Linked DNA regions of Homo sapiens: region 2 is linked to region 1. A link means that fine-mapping ties the variant in region 1 to the expression of a gene that starts in the linked region. Tissue or cell type: whole blood. Region 1 holds a variant in brackets; the other region holds the start of a gene. All regions are shown on one strand. Distances are from middle to middle.

The links. PIP is the estimated chance that this variant, and not a neighbour inherited with it, causes the effect.
Region 2: it holds the start of TRAF3IP3, and the variant in region 1 is fine-mapped to the expression of TRAF3IP3 in whole blood (TOPMed, PIP 0.96).

The regions. Positions count from the first base shown.
Region 1 is chr1:209,864,927-209,873,034 of GRCh38, forward strand. No RefSeq gene overlaps it. Among named protein-coding and RNA genes, the nearest start is that of UTP25, 41 kb to the left of the region's middle. The variant C/G (reference allele first, on the strand shown) is at 3,495.
Region 2 is chr1:209,752,675-209,760,782 of GRCh38, forward strand. TRAF3IP3 (TRAF3 interacting protein 3) reads left to right here and starts at 3,379. Exons shown (of 17, transcript NM_025228.4): 1 at 3,379-3,635; 2 at 6,360-6,460; 3 at 7,308-7,710. The coding sequence starts at 7,366. RefSeq lists enhancers at 3,102-3,261, 3,542-3,951.

The DNA of each region.
Region 1 (8,108 bases):
CCTGGGCAACAAAGGGTGAAACTCCATCAAAAAAAAAAAAAAAAAAGAAGAAGAAAGAAAAGAAAGAAAAAGAGAAAAGGTGATACTCCTTATACTCCTAAGTTTTATAAACAGAATATATACTTGGAACAAAACAGCAAAGCATCCCAAATGCTCTTCTTATGAGTAAACAATAGGGCAGAGGCGGGAAGCAAAACCCTAATTCAAGGGACTTTGCTCTCAACCTTGTAAAGCCACGAGTTGCAGGAGAAAGGTGGGCAACTAACATCCTGCAAGGAGTAGTGTGTTAGTTTGCTAGGGTTGCCATAACAATGTACTACAGACTGAGTGGCTTCAAAAACTAAAATTTGGCTGGGCACGGTGGCTCATGCCTGTAATCCCAGCACTTTGGGAGGCCGAGGCAGGAGGATCACTTGAGCCTAGGAGTTTGAGACCAGCCTGGACAACATAGTGAGATCCTGTCTCTCCAAAAAATAATTTTATAAAATTAGTTGGGCATGGTGACACATGCCTGTAGTCCCAGGTATGTGGGAGGCTGAGGCAGGAGGATTGCTGAACCTGGGAGATCAAAGCTGCAGTGAGCCTGGGAGACGGAGGCTGTACTCCAGACTGGTTGACAGAGTGAGACCCTGTCTCAAAAAACAATAAATAAGTAAATAACCAAAACTGATTTTTAATTCTGGAGGCTAAAAGTCGAAGATCAAGGTGTTAGCTGGGGTGGTTTCTTCTGAGACCTGCCTGTGTCTTCACATGGTCTTCCCTCTGTCTGTCTGTCTTTGTCCTTCTCTTCTTATAAGGATGCATATCAGATTGGATTAGGGCCCACCCTAATAACCTCCTTTTACCTTAATTACCTTTTTTTAAAAAATAATTTTTTTTTCTATACTGAATCTCACTCTGTTGCCTAGGCTGGAGTGCAATGGTGTGATCTCAGCTCACTGCAACCTCCTCCTCCCGGGATCAAGGGATTCTCCTGCCTCAGTCTCCCAAGTAGCTGGGATTACAGGTGCCTGCCACCATGCTCGGCTAATTTTTGTATTTTTAGTAGAGACGGGGATTTCACCATGTTGCCCAGGCTGGTCTTGAACTCCTGACCTCAGGTGATCCACCTGCCTTGGCCTCCCAAAGTTCTGGGATTACAGGCATAAGCCACCACGCCTGGCCCACTTTAATTACCTTTTTAAAGACTCAATCTCCAAATACAGTCACATTCTGAACTACTGGGGGTTAGGATCTCAAGATAGGGATTTTGGGGAAACACAATTCAGCCCATAACATGTATTCAGGTCCCCTTTCTGCCCAGACTTTAATGCAAATATAGATTCACCAGTCTGTCCAAAAAAAAGGCCACTGAGAAAGGAGGCCACACTTCCAGGAGGAAATTACATCGGGGAGGAATAAATACAAGCCTGTGGAGGTGTGGTTACTAGAAGGGGAAGCTGAAAATCTGTTTCTTATCTGCCTACACTCTTGGTACTTCCTCCATGTGGGCTGCAAAAGTGTGGTACCCCACACTTCAGCCCTATTTGTTTCCTTCCACCCACTCCCACCCTCTGTGTATAGCCTGGGGAAAGCATTCTGATGTTTTAGTTTTCTTTCTCCAGCCAGTCTAGGATAAAGTCTGTAGGGCATCTTTGCAGAAGCCTGCAAATATTTTGCTACAGAAAAGTGTTGCGGGAAGTCAGGGACCCCCGAATGGAGGGACCAGCTGGAGCCGTGGCAGAGGAACATAAATTGTGAAGATTTCATTTTAATATGGACATTTATCAGTTCCCCAAATTAATACTTTTATAATTATTTCTTATGCCTGTCTTTAATCTCTTAATCCTGTTATCTTCGTAAGCTGAGGATGTATGTCACCTCAGGACCACTATTGTGTTAACTGTACAAATTGACTGTAGAACATGTGTGTTTGAACAATATGAAATCAGTGCACCTTGAAAATGAACAGAATAACAGCAATTGTAGGGAACAAGGGAAGGCAACCATAAGGTCTGACTGCCTGCAGGGTCAGGCAGAATACAGCCATATTTTTCTTCTTGCAGAGACCCTATAAATGGATGTGCAAGTAGGGAAGATATTGCTGAATTATTTTCCCAGCAAGGAATATTAATAATTAATTCCCTGGGGAAGGAATGCATTCCTGGTGGGAGGTCTATAAACAGCTGCTCTGGGAGTGTCTGTCTTATGCGGTTGAGATAAGGACTGAAATACGCCCTGGTCTCCTGCAGTACTCAGGCTTATTAGGATGGGGGAAAAAACTGCTCCCTGGTAAATCTGAGGTCAGACCAGTTCTCTGCTCTCGAGCCCTGTTTTCTGTTGTTTAAGATGTTTATCAAGACAATATGTGCACAGCTGAACATAGACCCTTATCAGGAGTTTTTTATTTTGTCTGTGCCTCGTGATCTTTGCTTTGCCCTTTGCCTCGTGATCTTTATTGGCCTCAGAAGCATGTGATCTTTGTTCTCCTTTTTGCCCTTTGAAGCATGTGATCTTTGTGACCTACTCCCTGTTCATACACCCCCTCCCCTTTTAAAGTCCTCAATAAAAACCTGTTGGTTTTGTGGCTCAGGTGGGCATCATGGACCTACCGATATGTGATGTCACCCCCAGCGGCCCAGCTGTAAAATTCCTCTCTTTGTACTCTTTCTATTTCTCAGACCAGCTGACACTTGGAGAAAATAGAAAGAACCTACGTTGAAATATTGGGGGTGAGTTCCCCCGATAGAAAAGTACCCAAACCTCTTAGTAAGCAAACCTCTTAGTTAAGAACCTACCTTATTGGACCAATTGGTGGGAAAAGCATGGCCGTAGAAGATTGGCACTAAGGTGGGGCTGTTAAGATGTGACAAAACAAACGAAGGCTAAGCTGGTGCACATAATAATAACAGCTTCTGCTCCAGGAGACATCTGTGGGCTCCTCAATGGCTCTTCGAGCTCTCGGACGGGTCCAGCCAAGAGAAGCCCCAGCAAATGATGTCTGATCATGTGGAGGCCTTGGTTCTCAGGGTCTCCCTGCTGGGCTGCAGGTGGGTGGTGGCTGCTGTCTCTATGAAAGCCACAGCTCCTGCTGGGCCACCCTCTCTACTACAGCCCAGCCTCTGGATTCCTCCCCTTGCCCTGGGACACTCCAGCATCTCTTGTTCATTTCCCCTGACCCTGCCCACACCTCTGTGAATAGATACTTCATTAATCTCTCCTTAATAACTCACATCAATGTGCCATCTGTTTCCTCTCAGGTCCCTGAGCTTTTCTGTGTGCTAGGCACTGTTATAAATATAAATATACATTTCCTTTTTTTTAAAAAAACAGTTTGTTAAGATATAATTCACATACCATACAATGTACCCACATAAAGGGTACGATCAATGGCTTTCAGAGTATTCGCAGATATGTACAAACAATACCACAGTTAATTTTAGAACATTTTCATCACCTCAAAAAGAAACCCCATGTCCCTTAGCTACTACCCTCCTCTTCCCCACACCCCACCC[C/G]TCAGTCCTGAGCAACCGCTCACCTACTTTCTGTAGGTTTCTCTCTTTCTTTTTCACATGAATAGAATGCTATAGTATGTGATCTGTTACAACTGGCTTCTTTTACATAGCACAATGCTTTCAGGATTCTTCCATGTTATTATAGCTTATGTTGGCACTTTGGTCTTTTTTGTAGTTGAACATATTCCACTGTATGAATTTAACACATTTCATGTATCCATTTGTCAGTTGATGGACGTTGGGTTGTTTCCACCTTTTGGCTATAATAAATAATGCTGCTATAAACGTTCAGGCACAAGTTTTTGTGTGGACGTTGTTTTCATTTCTCTTTGGTATACAACTAAGAGTGGATCGCTGAGTTCTATAGTAACTCTATGTTGAACTATTTGAGAACTTGCCAAACTGTTTTTCAAAGCAGCTGCACCATTTTACATTTCCATCAGCCATCTATAAGGGTTCTGATTTCTTCACATTCTCACCAACGCTTGTTGTTATCTGAATTTTTTATTCTGGCCATCTTCGTGGTGGTGGTATCTCATCGTGATTTTGATTTCTATTTCCCTGTTAACTAATGGTGGCAAGCATCTTTTAATGAGCGTATTGGCAATATCTATCTCCTTTTATTCTCACAACTACTTTATGAGATAGGTGGGCTATTAAATCCATTTTACAGATGAGAAGAATGAGGCATGGAGAGTTGAAGTGACTTACCTAAGGTATACAGCGAGTAAGCGTTAGACTAGGATAGGAACTCTAGCAGGCAACCTTCATGCTCCTGTTAGAACACACTGCCTTTGCACAAAAGAACAAGAAGATTTGGGGGATGGCAGGGCAAGAAGGCAGGGTAGCCAAAGAACTTTTAAGAAGAGGAATATCTGCTGTGCCATTTAAAATAGCTCATGTTGCTGCATAGAAATCTCCTTCATTTCCATGTGTGAATGGTTATTTTGTGGAAAGCAAGGAAAGAGGGCCAAGTTCTTTCATGTTTGGGTTAAAGCCAGAGTGAAAATAAAGAACAGCCACAAGCAATAGGGCAGGGATCAAGAACTCAGCTGGGGCAGAAAGCTGGAGCCAGAGCTAATAAGATCATATAGATCCCTTAATAATTCACAGAAATATGGGAGAGGGCTGTAGCTTTCCACAGTCCAGACAGTTCAAACAAACCTTATCTGGATCTGAAGGGCCTGGGAGAGCCTCAGCTGGGTTTCATTTATAAAGTACTTTAGCACAAGTATGGTCATCCCCTCCCCAGTTCACCCCCACCCCGAAGTTCTTAGCCTTGTATCCAAATGAACATGTGGGCACTAAAGCCTGCTCTTTCCTCCTTCTATCTTTGTATTAACACTAAACAAACTGGCCTTTGTTTCTGACCTTGAAGAGACAGTAAAATCAACATCATTCTCCAAAATATCCCTCAAAGATGGGCCTATAAGAATTCAGAGAGTTTAGAGAATCGCTGCTTAGAAGCTTTCTCCCCTCAAACTCATCCCAGGAATCTTCTCCCTTTTACTCCCACTCCCACCCTCAACACACCCCCCACCCACACACACACACACAAACTTCCCAATTCACTGCTAGACTGCTTGATGGTTCTCTCTGGTGAGAGAAGCCAGGGTAACAAGGAGGAGGGAATGAGTCTGCAAATCAGGTATATTTTTGAATTTCAATTCTGTATCCCCAGCATCTGTCTGCTGTTTTATCAAGAGGACCAGAGATCATTTAGGAATGATGGACAGTCCTCTGAGGAAGCAATGCCAGAAGCATGATGAGCAGAAATGCTGAACAAGATGCTGGCTGGAAGGGAAATCAATCTCCCAGGCCGATTAGTTTGGGTGGGAGCCAACAGAGGCTGAAACTTGTTACAGCTACAGTCATCTTTCTTGCTACTTTTTTTTTCTTCTAGATCCTGGAGTAAAATCAGATTAGCCTTAGCGCTCAAGGTAGCTAACTGGTCTGCACATGCCATGGCAATGTCTCAAAACAGATGACTATTATTAAAAAATTATGGAGAAATGACATGATGCATCTCTCCATTTGGTCTGTAAGATACTTAAGGACAGGGGCTATGACCTTTCTTCTATGATTTATGGAGTAACTAGCACAATGCTGGGCCCAAAAGGTCACTAAACAACTTGCTGAAGGGAATAGGCTTAAAGTAGACACGAAAGGAACTTTCTTTTTTAAAAAAATAAAACAAAGAGACTTTGTCTAATCTCCCAGCTAAGAAATGAAAGCCAGATGAGTCCAATTCATTATGATGCATAGAGAATAAGATGGATAATTATAAACAGAGAAGCCCACAGAGAAGTTTGGAGAAGGGGGTTGCTATTCAATGTTAAAAACATGATTCTCATACAGATATAGTCGAAGATTGATCTAACTTATTAGTGAGGGAACCAGTAGGAAGACAAATCCAAATCAAAGGAGAATACAAGAGGCTGTTTTCTATGATCATTGAAAGTAAGGATGTAGAAGTGGGTTTGCAAAGCTAGGCAAAACTGTTTAATGTCCTACACAGCAGCAAGATCAGACCCTTTGGGGTTATGTTTTCTATTTGACAGAATTCTTTTGCCTTTCTACTGAACAAGAGTCATTTGCAATGTAGCTATCTTTTCAAGTTAACATCTCATTTTACAGAGTCTGGCCCCTAATCATGAGTAATTGGAACCAGAGAAATGCTCTCTCTCTTTTTAAAAAAATCCTGGGCTGGTATAGCAGGTGACAGTAGCAGTTAGAAGTGTTAATCCTCTTATCTGCCTCTGTGAGTTTAGATGGAAAAGTCAGGGAAGGAAAAGTAGGCAGAGTATGCAATGTGCCTAGCGTCACTCTTGGTAAGCTACCACTTGCCTATAAATAAAAACCACAATGCATGATCACCCATAAACCCAGAAAATGGTTTTCAGAGTGATCTAATCCAACCTGCAATCCCTGGCTTCTTTTCCTCCCCTGACATTTCCATCCACATTCTTTAGGTGGAAGGTAGAAATAACCACCTATCTGAAGTGAATAGACTTACCTCTCCTTGTCTGACAGCTTAAGTCCTAGACTTATGAGCGAGACTTTCCTATTAGGAAGAGAATTAAATCATTGTTAAACAAGTGTTTGTTTTCTTTTGCTTTTTCCTTCACAGGCCAGAAGCCATTTCTCTGGATCCCACTCAAGTTTAGGTGGTTGTGCCAATAGCATCAACTGCATGGGCTGTGTTTATAGACAAGTGGTATCTGACAGTAAGGGAATTGCTTGTTGAATGACTTGGAGGATCTCCCTGCCCTATTGAACCAGGATTAATAAACTCAGCGATGGAGCTTTGGAGGCTTTGCTGTCCACCTCAGGGGATATGGCTTGGGAAGAACTCAAATTCACCTCTATGATATTCTAACACTGGCAGAGGCAAATGAGAGGATTAACACTTGTAACTGTTACTGTCACTTGCTGTACTAGCCTAGGATTTTTAAAAAAGAGAGTATTTATCTGGTTCAGCCCCATTTGCTGCTATGAACCCTCCCAGCCCCTGCCTTTTCTTCCCTGCTGGTTCTAGGGCACCCCAAGGAGCACTCCACATGGGCACATAGCACAATCCTCTGGTACGTAACACCAGTAACCATCATTTCTCTCTAGTTCTGCCCTGAATTCCTGTGCTGAGTTTCATTCCAGAGATCACATACTCCTGTGCAGCTACCTGGACACCACCAGAGCACAGACACCACCATTCATGCCAAAGCCACTGGCACCAGGGCCACAAGTGCCCTGTGCTGTCTGATGCCCTCCATGCCCCTGCTAGGGTCTGTGGAATGACTCACTTAATTCTCTCCTTATGGCAGCCCTTTCTGCCTAGGAGTCAGGCAGGTGCCCTTAGCACCATCTGGGTTTCTCTGCTCCTCTCTCATGGACCCAGATTTGTGCAGCTCTACCCTTTGCTCCTTCAGGTGAACTCTCCTGGGGGACTCATGAGAAAGGCCCCTTAGGGGGCCCCATGGCCCATTTGGCCATGATTCTCCAAATATGCTCAGGGGTGTCTGGATCCAAAGTAAATAAAGTTGAGGTTCAAGTTGAGACACTGTCACCCTTTAAAATGGACATAGATGGGACAATAGAACATCACCCACCAGCTCTGAAAGGAAGTTCACAGATATTTCCTTAGCTAAGCACAGAAACATGGGGACACTTTCCTAGCCCCCTCTGAATCACATCTTCAACGTGAACATTTGTCATTCCAGGGAAGAAACAGGAATATTCAAAAAGAGAAACTGGAAAGTGAGACCTAGAGTATAGTCTCAGTTGTACCATTAATGAGTCTGAGAAAGTCATTTCCTCTCCCTGGCCTCAATTTCCTTTTATGTCAAATGAGAGTAGTACTCTAAACTGGGGGTCAGCAAACTTTCTGAGTAAAAGGCCAGATAGTAAATGCGTAGTCTCTATTAGTAATACAGTTTCTGTCACAACTACTCAATTCTGCAGTTGTAGTACAAAAGCAGCCATAGGCAATGTGTGGCCGTGTTCCAATAAAACTTTATTTACAAAAACAGGCAGTGGGCTGGGTTTGACCCACAGGCCATATTTTGCCAACCCTAGGTGTAGATGATCTTCAGCATCTTTTTAAATAACAATAATTCC
Region 2 (8,108 bases), 110 kb before region 1:
TTCATGGTGGCTCATGCCTGTAATCCTAGTACTTTGGGAGGCTAAGGCAGGTGGATCACTTAAGGTCAGGAGTTCGAGACCAGCCGGGCCAACATTGCAAAACCCCGTCTCTACTAAAAATACAAAAAATTAGCCAGACGTGGTGGTGCATGCCTATAATCCCAGCTACTCCAGAGGCTGAGGCACCCGGGAGGCAGAGGTTGCAGTGAGCTGAGATCATGCCACTGCACTCCAGCTTGGGCAACAGAGCGAAACTCCATCTCAAGAAAAAAAAAATTTTTTTAACTCCTTAGTGCTGTCTCTTGGAGTATGGGAGAAGTCATATTAGCATATAGTTTAGTTACCCCAACTGTACAATAAAATCTGATAATCTTACACATGCTTGTGTGGTATTGTGAAGCAACCAGGCTATAAAGGAAAGGGTAGCTTACCCCATACTCATCGCCTCATGGGGGACTACACAGGGCCCAGCATCTATCAAGGAAACTGTTTCAGAATATGACCATCAAAAAAGGGAGCCGTTGTTCCCATTGAACCTGGAAATGATGAGGAGAAGCAAAGGATACTGGCCACTAAAAGCCTGGTGCCCAGCTCAAGAGCAGCCTGAATTAAACCCTCTATTGGAGGCCAGCTGATGATTACACTACAAATCTCTACTTGAGCTTAATTTGGTAAATTCATTTTCTTAAATCCATTTTATCTAGATTTTAAAAATCATTAGCATAGTTACACAAATGACTCTCTATAATTAATTTCCACCGTATCGTGGCTACTTTCCATGTATCATTCCTAAACTTTTATAATGTCTTTTCTCTTTTTTAAATTGATTTGGCTCGCTGATATTTTATTTTATTGATTTTGTTTTCTATTTGTATGTCTACCATTCCTCCCCCTGCCAGATGCACACACAAAACTGAATTTTTTTTATCAATTTTAAACAGGATTCTAACTTATTATATATTCTCCTTTTATCATTTCAAAATTCTCACCTCCTTTTTTTCTGATCATTTTTTAGCAATTCATTTGAAAATAAATGAATAGGAAATTTATTTTTAATCTTCTTGATTTAGGTAATGAAAATGTTTAAAGCTAGGAATTTTCCTTGCATTCTGCTTGGCCATACCTCACAGATTTTCCTCATAATGTTGCCACTATCACCGTTTTCAATGCATTCTTAATTGCAGATTTGAAATTCCCTCTATCTTTTCAGAGTAAATGGGAAGAATTTTTTTCCAAGAAGTTAAAGTGTTTCTTTCTTCCATCTTTTGTTATTTATTTCAATTGTATTGTACTGTGGTCAGAAAATCCTGCCATAATAGATCAACTTTTCAAAACATATACTGAGGTTTACTTTTTGATCCATATGGTCAATTTTTTTAATGTCTCGTGGGCATTTGAAAATAAGGTATATTTTCTATTCTCAAAGTTCTGTGTGTGTGTGTGTGTCTTTTTCAATATAGATAGATAGGTATGACAACCTTATTAATTGTTTTGTTCTCAGAACACAATGTTAAGGGCTCAAACCTACTGTCAAGCAAACCTGGGTCCAACACTTTCTGTGTGATCTTGAGCATATCATTGACCACTCTAAATCCCAGTTATCATGGGATTAGTATCCCAATGACTGCGGACTTTGTAGACATTTCTTTCTGATGTTTAATGGAGTCCAAATAGTAGGTCTCTATAGGAACTCCTATTAAAATCTCCTGTCTTTCTTTACGCTCTAATGCCCTGAACTCCCAGAATCTTCTCACTCTTCTATGCCAATAAAAATTCTCTGGCCAGGCGTGGTGGCTCATGCCTGTGATCGCAGCACTTTGGGAGGCCGAGGCAGGTGGATCACCTGAGGTCAGTAGTTTGAGTCCAGCCTGACTAACATGGTTGAAACCCCATTTCTACTAAATACAAAAAATTATCCAGGCATGGTGGCGTATGCCTGTAATCCCAGCTACTCAGGAGGCTGAGGCAGGAGAATTGCTTGAACCTGGGAGGCGGAGGTTGCAGTGAACCGAGATCGCGCAATTGCACTCCAGCTTAGGCAACAAGAGTGAAACTCCGTCTCACTCTGTCGCCCAGGCTAGAGTGCAGTGGCACATTCTTGGCTCACTGCAACCTCTGCCTCCCAGGTTCAAGCGATTCTTGTGCCTCAGCCTCCCAAGTAGCTGGGTTTACAGGCACATGCCATGACATCCGGCTAATTTTTTATATTTTTGGTAGAGATGGGGTTTCACCATGTTGGCCAGGCTAGTCTTGAACTCTTGACCTCAAGTGATCCACCCACCTGGACCTCCCAAAGTGCTGGGATTACAGGTGTGAGCCACTGTGCCCGGCCAAAATTCTCTTTTTCTGACATCTTGGGCTCCCCAAGCCCTCTGTCCTCTACTCATTCCCATCTCTATGTGTCAAGCTCCAGACACAGGGCCTTGAGCTGTTGTCTCTCATCCTGAGTAAATGCCACTTGTCTTCAGTCCTAGTGCTTGAGAATCCATCCTCTGCTTTTCCCTGCCGATTCCTTGTCCTTTTTCTCCTCAAAGAACAGAGAAAGAAGCAGAAGCAGAGAAAATGGTGACAAACTCTCCACATGTTAATAAATGTTATCACAGCTATTTTTAAGTCTCATTACCTGCCTCACATGTGTCAAACCTTAGAATTCCAAAGAGCCACATACATCACCCAACTACCACAGTGAGTAGCATCCAGACAAGGTGAATTTTACAAGGTTACAAAGCTGCTCAGTTAACTTGTCCCAATCCAGTTTCCTCTCCACTATTTTAGCCTGAACTTCTTGGGAATTTCCTGGCTGCATCATTTGTGATGGCTTCATCTTAATGCATGCAAATCAGTTCCCTTTAGTTTTTCCCTAAATTTCCTAGTCCGGTTGACCAGATAAAAAAATGTGTAGAAGACTCTGCCTTCTATTCCTTCCTTCATCCCCCAGCTACCCACCTTTACACTCCCTCCTCATTGCTCCAGAAAGGAGCAAATCCAGAGTTGGTCTCATTCCAGAATCTGAGAAAGACACCACCTACTTCAGAAGAGCAGAAACTCTTTACAACACCAGGATTGGGAAGAGGTGGCTAAAGAAAAAGGAAAATCCTTACACAAAGAACTACCTGATACACATGAAAGCCTACACTGAGAACATCTCATCTAGGTCTTACCACCAAAAAGGCATTTTTTTCCCTCTCATAGAAACCACAAAGGTCTGAATCTGACCCAGAGGACTATCCTTTTCTAATCATGGAAAGGAATCTTGACTTGAAACTGTCCAAGAGCTCCGACCAATCCAGTAGCAAGAGAAAGGGTGGCCGGGGTGCCTACTGATGGGAGGAGCTCCTGAGCCCAGCCCTGGAGGCCTCAGAGTTCAGGGGCCCACTTAGATGATACCAGAGAGCAAGAGAGAGGAACTGGGGTTTGCGAACCTTGTGGCTTTGTCTGTTTCCTGTTTCAGCAAGGCTGCTGTGCAAAAAGAAAGACGGTACCAAGAAGGGACGTGTTAATGGGGCCCAGACCTATGGATTGAAAGCGTGTGCTTTACCCATCTGCTGTCTTGCTCCATCTGAGACCAGAGCCAAGATCTGCCCAGGACTGGAATGCTTTCCCGAGTGGCTTGAGTTGGAGCCTGGGACTAGGAGGTAACTGAGAAGGAGGATGCTTTTGTGTCCAGGTTTGGGAACTCCAACTTCGGGGTAGGGCAGAAGATGCTCTACCATCCCAGCTCCCCTGGGTGGAGAGTGGGTGGCATAGTTTAAGGGTGTCAGGGGTTTGGGTAACCAAGAAAGTATCCTGTATTGGTTTCCTGTGGCGCTAGCCATGGCACAGGGTACAGCTTGCACCACTCCTCTGTTCCAGTAGATTAGATTACATTAGATTAGGAGTGAGTCAAACGACTTAGAGTTCAGGCTACCCAGTGATATGGGCATGAATTAAATGACCTTTTACAGTTTTCTTCAAAGCAGGGATCCCTGAACACAAGACTGCCTTCCCAGCAGCTTAAGCGCAGGCCCCTCTCCCCTCAGTTCACACTGAGAGCTCTGGGCCAGGAAGGCCAACCCATGCAGGAAGCCATTCATTGTCTCCATTACAAACATGGCCAGGAAGTAAAAGCGAGACTCAGAAAGGCATGTCAAGCCACAGTCAGGTGAGGAGCCATGCCCTGTTCTCTCTCTGCAGCCTGAGAGACCAGGCTGAGCCTTCCCAGCCAGTAAACCTTCTTCCTCCAAGCTCTAAGTGAGCCCAGTCATGCTGCCAGGGGGGAACCTGAGAGATGCCAGAAAGCCTGGGCAGTGGCCAAGTGATCTTTCTTTGAACCCTACAGGGACCAGTTCCCTTTTCTTTAGCAGCCTACCCCTGTCAGCCGTCCCACATACCTTCTTGTTTTCAAGCAAGTCAGTAGGGTCCAGATATCCCAGAAACCTGGGTAGGGTTCTATGCAGCATGCTGCACCAAATCCTAGCAGGTGTGGTAGCCAAGGCATCTGGGAACACTCCCCTCTCTAAGGAGCCATTTCCACTGCAGCTCCTTTCTTGGGTAAGAAGGCTCCATGTCTGCCCCAAGGAAGCAGAGAGCAGAGCAGCTGTGTGTTTCAGTGGACTAAGGTTGGTGGCCTGGGTGGAGAGCCCAGAGAGACCTCATCTCAGGCACTGTCTTCTCCCCCACAGCCCTTTCCTCTTCGCGGCAAGAAGGTAGGAGGATTCTCAATGTTCTGCCTCCACTACAAAACCTGTGGGGAAGCTGAGCCAAACAGGGAGGGGACCTCACACCTTATGTGTGACACAGGCAGACCCCATCTCTTCCTTACCTTTCGGCTTGGTGTAATTGGGATGGCAATTATGTCCAGACCACAGAGAAGCCTTTCTCCTTATAGCCCAAACCCAGAGGTCAGAAGTAAATGTGACTTCAGCCTGGGGCCAGCATCCCCTCAATCTGGTAAACAATATACTCTGTCAAAGAGAGAGAGGGTTGAGAGGATGAGAGAAGGCATTCTTGGTCCTAGAAGTGCTAGTTTAGCTTGGAGCCTTTGTCTTACAGCACCAAGTCTTCAATATCCAACATCGGCATAACAAGGATAATATTCGCAATTACTTTTGCACCAACCTAATAGGAATACTTTATGTCTTTATTATTAAAAGGTAACATTTATTGTGTGCTCCATGCCAGGTGCATGGCCTGCATTTTGTCATTTAATCCTTATAACCTACAAGGCAGGTCCTAGCCCCATTTTATAAATGAGGAGACTGGGGCTTAGAGATGTTTAATAGCTTATCTAAAAACACACACAGGTTGTAGGTGACAGAGCCAGGACATGAGTCCACGCAGTGTGACTCCAAGAGCCAGGGTTCTCCACTGCAATCCATGGCAGAATAGCCAGGGGCTGTGGCTCAGGGATGCTGTGAGTGTAGGTTCTAGACATGGAGTTCACATGCACATAATCCTGCGTCTCCTCCATTCAGTCATTTATAACAATAGACATGGGTCTCTCAGACCCTTTCTTTTAAGTCTTTAAATAAAGAAAGTGGCAGGGAAGAAGTCAAGGGACCACCCCCTATGCCCACTCCCACCCTTATCCGAGAAGAAGAAGTAAGGAAAAACAAAGAAGAGAGCCATTCAGAATGGGTATGTAGAGGACAAACATTAATAACCTCACATTTCTGCTTGGAATCAATGCTGCCTGACACCAGAGTATGCCCCTCCAACCCTCAAGAGTCAGGCATTTGAGTGTCCAGGGCTTGACCACACAAAACTCCTCTCAGGGAAGAAGACTGCCCCACCCATGACCCTGGGGAATGAGTGGTAGGATCAGAGAGAAAACAAGAATCCTGCAGAGAATTCCAGACTGAGCCAGAGTAGCGAAGTCCCAGTAAAGGGGCAGAGAGTCTGCTACCTGTTGAGTCTGTTTGGCCTATAAATAAACCCCAAGGGGTTAGAGCTAGCAAATGCCTGCTAGTTGGTGAAGCTGAGATACCCTCCTCCCAGGGTGGTGGGTAATGAGGTCGTGGGAGGAAGAGAAGCAGCAGCAGCTGTGAGGGGGAGTCCCTCTTCCTTCATCAGTCCCTGGTCTGACTCCAGTGATCAGAGGAGGCAGGACACAGAATTTCCAACGCTCAGGATCCAGCTCATCCAAATCCAGCCCAACTCAGCAAAGTGACCAGAGGGTTCTAGGAGGATAAACTACAGAAGGTAGGTGGGGAAGAGTAGGAAAGAGAAAGGCACAGAGAAGGAAAAGGGGATTCAGGTCTAGGTGCTATGTGAATATCAGGTAAGGCCATGCAGAGGGTCATCCTGTGGCCCCTACACCAAGCCTGGCTCCCTGGAAACTTCTGATTACTGTCTTTGTTTTGTTTCTTTTCTGTTTGCAGCAGCCTTATTGAGGTACAATTCATGTGCTTGTGGGTTTGGATGGCACAATCTGTGTCTGGGCTAAGGAAAGCAGACTTGGCACCAACATTAACCCTGACAGGTTGGTAATCCTAAAGAAATGGAACCCTCAGCCCCAACAGTATTGGAGCCAGATGCTCTGAAATGGGTTTTGGCCAGCACTAGGCATGTGGCAGATGCTCAGTCAATATTGATTGGACTTGATCTGCACCTGAGAGACACAGCCCAGTCCTGAGCTTGGAGTGGGGGGCCCATGGACCATTGTCAGGACAGCAGGTTGGAGGAATTAGGGTAGGGTTTCCCTCCTAAACCATGCCAGGTCCAGGCTCACAAGCTCGTTGCTAAAAGTCAAGAAGAGAGCAGTGGGTGCTGGTCACAGGACTGGTCACCACCTGAGGGGGTGTGGTTAGCCCTCCAGATCCTTGAGAAGTGTCACTCAACTATGTTAGTGACAGCTTGGACCAAGAGACCAGTAAAGATACTGACTTTCCTTTTCAACTGGGGGATAAGAGGGCAGATTGGCTCAACTTAGCTGCTTCTCTAGAAGTCTGGAAAATGAACACACACCTGCCATCCAAGAGGCTATAAGCTCATTATGATTTTAATCAATTATTTCTCATGTTCCCCTGACTCAGAGGCATGGTAAGATGTTCAGTCAAGGAGTAAGTGGCAGCCATAGAGACCCTTTTACTTTACAAAGGGGAAACATCGGCTAGAGAAAAGCAGGAATTCACTTTTATAAGACTGTATTAGTTCATTAGAGACTGAGCCCAAGAGTCCTGACTCCCACTTTGATACCACCATGTCCTCAGTTTTCAACCCACATGGATGGAACTCTGTGCTATTTCTGCCCCCTGGTCTAGGGAGATAGTCATTTTTCTGCCCATCTTCTGACCCCTCCCCTTCTCCTCCCTCTTGGCATTTGGCAGATCCAGGCATCTATTCCAGGAACTGGAAGCCAAGCGCAACAGGTGCTTGGAGGTCATCATGATCAGCCCAGACCCCAGGCCCTCCCCTGGCTTGGCCCGGTGGGCTGAGAGCTATGAGGCCAAGTGTGAGCGCAGGCAAGAGATCCGTGAAAGCCGCCGCTGCCGTCCCAATGTGACCACTTGCCGCCAGGTGGGGAAGACGCTGAGGATCCAACAGAGAGAGCAGCTCCAGAGAGCTCGACTGCAGCAGTTCTTCAGGAGGAGGAACCTGGAGCTAGAGGAGAAGGGCAAAGCGCAGCATCCCCAGGCCAGGGAGCAAGGGCCCTCCAGGCGGCCAGGACAGGTGACTGTCCTCAAGGAACCCTTGTCTTGTGCCAGAAGGATTTCTTCTCCCAGAGAGCAGGTGGGCCGTGTCAAGGGACATACTGCTGTGTGCTCTGGGACCCTCTCTGGACAAGGAGGGTGGGTGGGCTCAAGGTCACTAAAAAGTGACCTAAATCAAGTCCTTCTTCCTCAGTCATATAGTAAAGTTGCCAAGAGCTACTTATAGTAAAGTTGCCAACAGCTACTTATTCAGAGATTTTTGCTGTTGTGTTTTCGTTTGTTTAGCTCTTTTTGTTCTGCACTTGACTTATAAGAGAGAAAAAATAATTTTTAAAAACAATTTCAGGCTGGGCATGTTGGCTTATACCTGTAATCCCAGTACTTTGGGAGGCCAAGGCAGGAGGATCACTTGAGGCCAGGAGTTCGAGACCAGCCTTTTGATAGAGACAAGACCCTGTCTCTATCAAAAACTTTACA